Linked DNA regions of Homo sapiens: regions 1 and 3 are each reported to be linked to region 2. Evidence: microRNA targets listed by miRTarBase, many of them from high-throughput screens and not tested one by one. Region 2 holds a microRNA gene; each other region holds the end of a gene's coding sequence.
What was found. Region 2 holds the annotated microRNA hsa-miR-7973 (UGUGACCCUAGAAUAAUUAC, at 1,813-1,832, opposite strand). A microRNA usually pairs through its seed, bases 2 to 8, with sites in the 3' UTR of a target mRNA and lowers its output. Matches are read on the target gene's strand: a 7mer-m8 pairs with bases 2 to 8, a 7mer-A1 pairs with bases 2 to 7 and ends in A, and an 8mer does both.

Region 1 (3,259 bases), not on the chromosome of region 2:
CCCCGGACACCCAGCTTTAAAATTTCTCTCTTTTGTACTCTGTCCCTTTATTTCTCAAGTTGGCTGACACTTAGGGAAAATAGAAAAGAACCTATGTGAATATCGGGGCTGGTTCCCTGACAGGACATAACCTCTTCAAAAAATAAAAAAGAAATAAAAGCCTACAGCCAAACCAACAAAATAGAGTGCATATCTCACCAGAACTGCAAAGACAAGTATGCTGGTATTACTACTTTTAGTTGGTGTTGTGCAGCGGGTTAAAATCAGTCCAGTAAAGCAAGAAAATATTTAGAGAGAGCTTCATCATCATACGAATTTTGGGGGTCATTGTTCAGTCCAAAGTACTTAATATGATTCTTTTCTCTTTCCACATAGAGAATCAGATAATCTATAAATAATGACTCTTACTGTTCCACTTTAGGAGTTAGGTATACATACATATGTGTATATATATGTATATATATATACACATACACACACACACACACACACACACAGTGACCCCCCAAATTTCATATGAAGTTCCAAACCTCAATGTGACTGTATGTGAAAAGAGAAGGGGGCGGGGAGGGGGGAGACCGACCGACCTATTTGTTGGTCTCCATCGTGTGAAAACATGAGGAAGTGGGCACTTACATGCCAGGAAGAGAGCTCTCACTAGAGGTTGACCATGCTGGCACTCTGATCTCAGACTTCCAGCCTCCAGATATGTGAGAATATAAATTTGTGTTTTGGGCCAGATACGGTGGCTCAGGCCTGTAATCCCAGCACTTTGGGAGGCCAAGGCAGGTGGATCACCAAAGGTCAGATCTGACCAACATGGAGATCAGCCTAACCAACATGGAGAAACCCTGTCTCTACTAAAAATACAAACTTAGCTAAGGTTTGTGGTGCATGCCAATAATCCCAGCTACTGAGGGTGAGGCAGGAGAATCACTGGAACTCAGGAGGTGGAGGTTGCGGTGAGCCAAGATCATACCATTGCACTCCAGCCTGGGCAACAAGAGCAAAACTCCATCTCAAAAAAAAAAAAAAAAAAAAAAAAAAAATCCTGTGTTTTTAACCTCATTGATTTAAAATTAAATTAATTTCTAAGCCATTTGGTCTGCGGTATTCTCTTATGGTTGTCTGAGCTGACTAAGGCAGATATTGGTACTGAGAAGTGAGGTACTGCAATTAAAAACAAACAAAAAAACTAAAAATGTGAAGCAGCTTTGAAACTGACAAATGAGTAGAGGCTGGAAAAATTCTGATGTGCAAGCTGGAAATAAGGTTGGTAAGGGTTATTCTGGTGAGGTGTCATTGGGGAATGAGGAACATGCTATTGGGAAATGAAGAAAAGACAACCCTTGATATAAAGTGGTGAAGAACTTGGCAGAACTGTATTCTAGCATTTTACGGAAGGTAGAGCTTGAGACAGATAAAATGGTATGTATCACTAAGATCTGTAATTAAAGTGTTAAAGGACACAGGAAGCTTCATTATTCCTGAGTGCTTACAGGAAAATGTGCTGGGAACAGGCCCCCCAAATCTGGCCATAAACAGGCAATGAGAAACTGGCCATAAACAAAATCTCTGCAGCACTGTGACATGCTCGTGATGGCTATGACGCCCATGCTGGAGGCTGCTGGTTTACCAGAATGAGGGCAAGCAACACCTGGCCCACCCAGGGCAGAAAACTGGAAAACTGCTCAAGGCATTCCTAAACCACAAACAATAGCATGAGTGATTTGTGCCTTAAGGACATATTCCTGTTGCAGATAACAAGCCAGAGCCTGTCCCTTTCTTTCTCATAAGGAATACTTATAGCTGATCTACAATCTATAGGAATAATGTTTATCACAGGCTTACTGTCAATAAATATGTGGGTCAAACTCTGTTCAAGCTCAGCTCTGAAGGCTGTGAGCCCCGATTCCCACTCTGCACTATATTTCTGTGTCTTTGTCTTAATTCCTCTAGAGCCACTGGGTTAGGGTCTCCACGACCCAGCTGGTCTCGGCAAAAATGCAAAAGGAGACCTGAATTGCAGAAGAAATTGTTAAGGAAAAAGGAACCAGAACTTGGAGATTTGGAAAATTCTCAGCCTATCCATACTGCAAAAATTAGAAAACTTGTACTGAAGAGAATCCTCAAAGTGTGGCTGAACAATCATTTGATAAAGAGATCATGAGTGGGATTCATGGACTATATCAGCCATCTTAACAGAAGTGAGAAGAGAGACTGGATTATACTATAAGAGACACTGCCACTTACATTGTGCCACCTAAAATGGACAGAGAAGACAGAACAGAACAGTCAAGGTTGTCACACTTCTTATTTTACAAGAAGGGGACATAGAAATAATCAGCTGTGAAAGGGCACTGGCAGTTATGGATGGTTTCACTCCTGACATGCTCTGCAGGATCCATGGGAACAGAAGAGAACCTTGGAGGAGCATCTTTTTAACAATCCACCTCTGGGGCCTACATCATCTTGGCTTCTGGTAAATTTTGACATGAATGTGCCACACTGGCAGCCACTAACCAACAGGGGCTGGGATCAATCTGCATGATTTATCTCGTACAGAACTTGTTAATGCTATGATCTTAGGAATCTAATCACCAAGGTGAGGCAGCCTGCAGTACTGACCTCACCATCCATGACCCTTCTTCACAGATGCCCAGACTCAGGTAACCATGATGTTGTATTCAGAACCTGTAGGTTTAATTTCAGACCCTCGGGATGCATCTAAGGCCAATCTGTGAGCCATTACAACCTCCAAAAGGCATTTAGGACTAATCTGATGATCTTTGCACTGCCAATAATTAAAGATGGCAACCAATGGGCTAAATGGTAACAACACTCATATCCTTACATTCATAGTATTTCTCCCCAGTGTGAATTCTTTCATGCATACTTAGGCATGAGGAAAGAGCAAATGCTTTCCCAAATTCTTTACATACAAAAGGTTTCTCTCTGGTAGGAGTTCACAGGTGGGGTGAGGAATACAGAAATTCTTTCCCACATATCTTGCATTTACCTTTCTCCACTGTGAGTTTTCAAATGTTTACTACGATGGGAAGAAGTAATGAAGGTCTTCCCACATTCAACACATTCATAAGGCTTCTCTCCTGTGTGAATTCTTCTATGTTGAGTAAGCGTTGAAGATCTATTGAAGGCTTTCCCACATTCCTTACACTGATAGGGTTTCTCTCCAGTGTGATTTCGTATGTGTATAGCAAGGCCCGTGTACTGAGTGAAGGCTTGGCCACATTCCTTA
Region 2 (3,259 bases):
GCCAGCACGTAGTTCAAGTTTCCATCTGAAGAGAGGGAAACATGAAGAAATAGAGGAGCGTGCTATTAAAATAACGAGGCCTTTTTGCTAAGAGCAAACAATCACTTCCTTTCCTTGGCACCCAGAATCTGCAGGGCCCTGAATTAGGCACTGAAGGGAGATCCAGGGAAGCATGAGGAATAGTCACTGCCCTTGAGGGCCTGGATGTATAGGTTCATTCTACTTTTCATTCATTTATTCAAGAATTATTTCTTGAGCCTCTACCAACAGCAGACACTGAGCCTGGCACTGGGTTTAGAGCAAGAACCATATAACTGGGTATACAACAGTAAACTGTGCAGATATGGTTCTTGCTCTAAAATTGCTTGTAGTCTAGTGAAGGACAGAGGCAAGTAAACAAGCAACTACAAAATGAAATGAAGATTGCAGTGATGGGGAGGGGAGGGGGTACTCTGGGTGTAGACTGGGGTAGGGTGGGCAAGGCTGAGTGGGTGAGATATCATTACAGTGGAAACCCGAAGACTGAGTATGTGTGAGCTAAGCATGCACCATGAGGGGTCTGGCAGTTGGGACGGAAGTGTACTCCCCATGGAGAGAATGTGCAGAAGCACGCATAACCTTCTGACCGGACTGCAGCAGGCCTGGGTGACGGTGGTGGTGAAGGTGGGGAGTGTTGAGAAACACAACCAGCAAGGTAGGCAGGGGCCCGTAAGTGAAGGACTTTGAAAGGCCTGTTGGAGAGTTTCTGTGTTATCTCAAGGCCAGTGAGATAAAGGGCTTGAAGCAGCAGATTTGTATGTTAGAGTCCTCTGGCCTCGGGGTAGAGAGTGGATGAAAGCAAGCAGGATCGGATTCAGAGAGGTCAATTAGGAGCTGTTGCCAGGGACAGTGGCTTGAACCAGGAAACAGCCCAGAGAGGTGCAGAGAGGTTGAGGAATTTGAGACATCTTTAAGAGGTACAACCAACAGGTTTGGAGACTGGGTCGGAAGTAGGAAATGAGGAAAATGGAGGAAACCAACACTTATGAAGAAACAAAGACAGAGGCTGACAAACAAAAGCAATAGCCATTCTCCAGGAAGAAAATGGTGGCATGACCATGTGTTTTGAGCAAGGAAAAATTGCAATGGGCTAGAGAGATTTTGAAGGACTTTCTAGAAGAGTTAGAATTGGAGCTGGGTCTCCGACATGGGTAGGATTTTGGTGGGTAGAGAGGACATTCCAGGCTAAACAATGATGCAAGTTAGAGTTCTAAGGCAGAACAGTGTGTGATTTGTTTAGCATGATTTGGTCATGGTTTTCTTGGGAGAGTCCCAAAGAACTGATTCTCCAGGGGGTGTTACTAAAACTCTTATTGAAAGGAGGGACTACAGAGATGAATCTCATCACTCTCCCAGAATGGCACAGAGCTTTTCATGGACCCCCGGGCCACCTATGTAGGAACCTCAGGGGGTCTGTGGACCACTAAAAGCCCAACATGCCTGAGACTCCACAGATACTGGCTTCCACCATGATAAAGGCAAAAAGTCCCTCTTTCCCAAAATCAATACTTTTATTCTCATAGGCCTCCTGCTGTGGTCTAGTCCCCATGTTGAAAGCTGCTGTCCCAGGGTGTTGCTTCACTACTTCTAGGCTCCTGCAGAGTCCTGCCTCATAGGCCGCACTGGTGAGTGAGGCCAGCAAACCCATCAGGGAGACTACATGAATCCAAGGCCGTGGAAGACTTAGGTTTGGATATTCCCTCTGCTCCCTCCTGGCTGTGTGACCCTAGAATAATTACTCACCCTCTCAAAACCGAGACTCAGAGACGTTGGGTAATTATTCTAGGGTCACACAGCGAGGAAGGAGGAGAGGGAGTATCCAAACCTAAGTCTGTCTGACAGCAAAGCCTGTTCTCTCCATCTCTCCAGGTTCCTAAGCCAGGTGAGCGTTGAACCTTTCTTGAATCAAGGTTCCAATTCCAAGGTAGGAAAGCACAGTCAGTCAGGGAAATATTTACACTGAGACCACGCACCCCAGCCCTTTCCCAACCTGCTCTTGTGTGATCCTTTTGAGGTTTTTTGTTTGTTTTGAGATAGAGTCTCACTCTGTCGCCCAGGCTGGACTGCAGTGGTATGATCTCAGCTCACTGCAACCTCCGCCTCCCAGGTTCAAGTGATTCTCCTGCCTCAGCCTCCTGAGTAGCTGGGATTATAGATGCCCGCCACCATGCCCAGCTAATTTTTGTATTTTTAGTAGAGATGGGATTTCACCATGTTGGCCAGGCTGGTCTTGAACTCCTGACCTCAAGTGATCCCCCCACCTCAGCCTCCCAAAGTGCTGGGATTACAGGCATGAGCCACTGTGCCTGGCCTTAAGTTTTTTATAGATGGGAAAACCGAGGTCCAAACGTGAGCAAGGGCTCTGCATGCTACCTCTCTATTTTCTCAGCCCCTTCTGCAGGCTCCATGCCATAAGAACATGGCTCCTAAGGTTCAGGCCTATGGCCCCAGTTTAGGTGGTGCCTCTGCTCTGCTCCCCACCACCCCAGCCTCCTATTTGAAGGCCAAGACTACTCAGCTTTGATTCAGGTTGAATGAGTCATCAAGGGTAAAACAAAGAAGAGAATAAAACAAAGAAGAGAAGGCCTATTCCCTTGCAGATGAAATCAATCCACTCACCTTTTGACATCTTTTTGTTCTAGAATGATGACAGTATGCAATGACTCAGAATCATCACACTCACAGAGACTACTTTGTATTTTTTCTTGCAAATGAAGAGACAATATGCCCAAAAAATGAGCTGAAAATGGCTCATGAAGGGAGGGAAGATGACCTCCAGCACACCAGGGCAGAGTGGGGGCCACATGAAGGTGCAAGAGTGGGAGGGAACCACAACGCCTTGGCAGAGAGGAGAGCAAGTGGGGGCCAAGCCACAAAGCTCTTCAAGGCCAGTCAACAGTGAAACCTGAAGGAGTCCCATCCATCCCCAAGTCTGCTTGAGTTAAAGCCCTGCACCCTCACAAGCAGCTGGAGGGAGGGGAGGAAAGATATTTTCAAAAGAGCCATCATATATGGGGTGTGGGAAAGAAAAACTTGCTGCGTCTAACACCAGAGAGCCTCTCCAAGCCAAGCCATCTGCCTCAGGGCAAAGGAGGGAATGGAAGCGGGAGAGAAGGGTTTGGAGCCAGCTCTCAGCAACATGTTTCTATCTGGAGAAATGAGCTGAGAAGATCTGAATCTTCTCCAGCCTGTTCTGCAAATGTGGGATAATCGGCCCCTG
Region 3 (3,259 bases), not on the chromosome of region 2:
TTGTGTGCCTGCCCAACTAGCTGGTGGCATTTTAGACATTAAAGAGAAATAAAGATGGGACAGAATTCTACGGTATCCATAAGAATCGATCCCTAGCCAATCAATAAATAAGAATGTAACAAGAGCTGTGCTGATTCAAAAAGAGAGGTTCATTTGAAAACGGAAATTGGCCGGGCGCAGTGGCTCATGTCTGTAATCCTAACACTTCGGGAGGCCGAGCTGGGTGGACTGCTTGAACCCAGGAGTTCGAGACCAGCCTGGCCAACATGGTCAAACCCTGTCTCTACTAAAAATACAAAAATTAGCCAGCGTGGTAGCATACCTGTAGTCCCAACTGTTCAGGAGGCTGAGGCAGGAGAATCGCTTGAACCCAGAAGGCGGAGGTTGCAGTGAGCCGAGATCGCACCACTGCACTCCAGCCTGGGGAACAGAGGGAGACTCCATCTCAAAATAAATAAATTGGAAATTGCTGGGAGAAAGGGGTACAATGTTCTACTCTTCTCATGGTCAAAGAATAAGTGAATATTAAGTTTTTTTAGAAATGAAAATAAAACGACCCAACAAAGCAGCACTAATATAGAGATTTTATTTAAACTGTATTGAATTTTTACAGCACATTGCATGTTTGTCACAACGCAACTGCACAGTTTGGATTTTTGGCCACATCATGTCACTTACACCCACAACAGCTCTGAAAGGAGTATTTGATGAACACATCTGAGCCAAGAGCCCAGAGTCTCTCTCCAAGGCCATGCAGTTTGTTCACTGATGGGACAGTCCCTCAAAACAGCCACGCTAAGTAGACAGATACAGTCTCCCCAAATGTTACCAATCTTACTCCCCTTGAAAACAGGCAGAGTGAAGTGCAATGAAAGACAAGTTAATTAAAAAGCCACTCACAACTGGCAGTAAATTTTAATGATTGATAAAATGCTTAAAATAATTTTATGTATCAGAAACAAGGAACAGCTTGTTACTTTTTCAATGATCTCAGGAATTTTGCAGACACAAAATCTCCATTATTCAGCTCCATTTAAATGAAAAAAAAAGTTCCGCTAGGCTGACCTAAATATGCCAAAACTTTTTAGGTTACATCTATGGCAAGTACAAAAGAACCACAGATGCGTCTCTGTAGGACTGAAAAGGTCAGGACAAATAATGATTCTTGTTCTAAATGCAGATCCTAGTTATTTTGGAATGAAATGCTGTTTTCTAGAAAGCAACATGAAAGTAGCAGTAAGAAAGATGACTACCATCATTTCAAAACAGGATAAGCCTAAATATAATTTACCATTTATATGTCAACAAATTAAGGAAAACTGTATAAAGTCCTAGTGGTTTCATTATAGGCCAAGGAGACTGTATCTGTCCCACCCACAGTACATGGCTATATCACTGTATCTTTTGGTTAAGTGCCACTGGTACATATTAAGATGAAAAAAAACAAAAACAAAAACAAAAAAACAAAATAAAATTTTTTAAAAACCAACAACGTTTGGTCCAAATGGACACATGTTCTTTCCCAATTTTGGTATCAAGGCTTTATTCTCTTCTGTTTGGGTTCCATTGTTAAGTGCACAGAAATAGACAGCAGCATTTGTACTGAAACCCTCACATACCAAACAGCATATGCTAGGAGGTAAAAACCAAACGCTAAATTCTACCCTCAAGGTGTCAAGTGTTCAGGATAAGAAGCAATGTGACCCAGAGGAGGCATCAGCCAAGGGAAAGACAACATGGGGGAAATGGGCAATGGAACAACAACAACGAAAACCTTTGTTTTATTTTCATGCCAGGAGAGGATCAAGGTGTAGCTCCTGTGTTAGCACCAGGACAACTAGGAAAAGTCAGGTGCAAAGAGTAGGGCACAATCAGCAGATATTTCACAAGGATAATTTTTGCTTTTCCCTTCTCATTCTTCACAGTGCATAACTCAAGAGCTGCCACTGTGTAACAGAGACGACTGCCTTCACAGCTCAAAATAACTCAATGTTTGCCAGGACCGAACATCAGCAGAGTTTTCCTCTGCTCCCAAAAATGTCTCACTCCCTAGAACTGTTCCCCTAAACTGAATATTCACCAATGCTGGCTGATGAGCCAACTGAAAAATACATTGAAACCTCCACTTGCTGAGCCAGTCTTCAAACCAAACTCCACAGAAAGACAGTACTAATGCAACTAGAAGGAGTGCCTCTAAAGGCTGAGCCTTCATGCAGACACAGAGCACAGAGGTACAGGATATAGTTCATCTCAAATAGGACAGGAATTCCTACCTTGTATACTATAATCTGCTTTTGTCAAGGTGGAGGAGAGATGGGTCTGGTTATCACTTGGAGTTTGGTTATACATATGCCTTTCTATTGCTGTTTGGGGCACTTTGCACCAGGCAACATCTACGCAATCATCATCTTGTGACCTCCAGGAGAAAGAGGCTGGAGTCACCAACTCAACATTAAGCTTCCAGACCCTGGGTCTGGGTTAGGACCATTACCCCAAGGTGAGGGTATCACCAGTAGAGGACCTCCTGCTAAATTGCAATTCCTCTGCTCCAGTTTCATGATACCAAGGAGGATTTCTCAAGATGGTATCTCTGAGCTCTGTGATTTCATGAGCCACACCAAGGAACCTTCCAAACTACAACTGAAGAAGATCCTCCCTTCAAACCTGCTAAAATTGGACAGGTTTCTCCCCGGCATTCAACTGGAAGCTGTAGCAATGGGTTTCTTCAGCTGTTGGCTCATGAGTTCCCTGGCACGAGAGACTTGAATGTGTTCGTAACATGAGTTACAGACGAGAACTGGGTCATAGAGTTGCTGATCAGGAATGGGCAGCTTCAGGTGGCAGCATCCAGCACAAAATACATTCCCACAATTTCTGTCAAAGCAGAAAGAGGGAAGAGTTCATCAGAAATGCCAATATACTGGCCAGGCAGGGTGACTCACACCAGTAATCCCTGCACTTTGGTAGGCTGAGGCAGTAGAATCGCTTGAGGCCAGGAGTTTGAGACTTGCCTGAGCAACATAGCAAGAGCCCATCGCTAATAAAAAAATAATTAATTAATTAATATTAAGAAATGCCAATATACTGAGAATGAGTGATACTAAATGAAAAGTTGGGGACAAACAAAAATAGTTTCTATAAAGAGGTGTCCACTTCCAAACTAATTCCACTTAGTTCTATACATATGTATTACACTATTTTTGTTTTTGTTTTTTGTCCTTTTTGAGACAGAGTCTTGCTCTGTTGCCAGGATGGAGTG

Region 1: miRTarBase lists ZNF562 as a target of hsa-miR-7973. Seed matches in the 3' UTR shown: 7mer-m8 at 498-504.
Region 3: the mRNA of MTMR4 is a reported target of hsa-miR-7973. Seed matches in the 3' UTR shown: 7mer-A1 at 2,411-2,417 and 8mer at 1,699-1,706.

What each region holds. Positions count from the first base shown.
Region 1 is chr19:9,649,934-9,653,192 of GRCh38, forward strand. ZNF562 (zinc finger protein 562) reads right to left here. Exons shown (of 6, transcript NM_001130031.2): 6 at 1-3,259. The coding sequence ends at 3,016. Among named protein-coding and RNA genes, the nearest start is that of ZNF562, 24 kb to the right of the region's middle.
Region 2 is chr15:51,312,607-51,315,865 of GRCh38, reverse strand. It overlaps MIR7973-1 (microRNA 7973-1), which reads right to left and starts at 1,832; the gene lies at 1,757-1,832. The region is part of intron 1 of CYP19A1 (cytochrome P450 family 19 subfamily A member 1); the gene reads left to right. It overlaps MIR7973-2 (microRNA 7973-2), which reads left to right and starts at 1,759; the gene lies at 1,759-1,834.
Region 3 is chr17:58,488,967-58,492,225 of GRCh38, forward strand. It overlaps MTMR4 (myotubularin related protein 4), which reads right to left. Exons shown (of 18, transcript NM_001378067.1): 18 at 571-2,874. The coding sequence ends at 2,697. Among named protein-coding and RNA genes, the nearest start is that of HSF5, 2.2 kb to the left of the region's middle.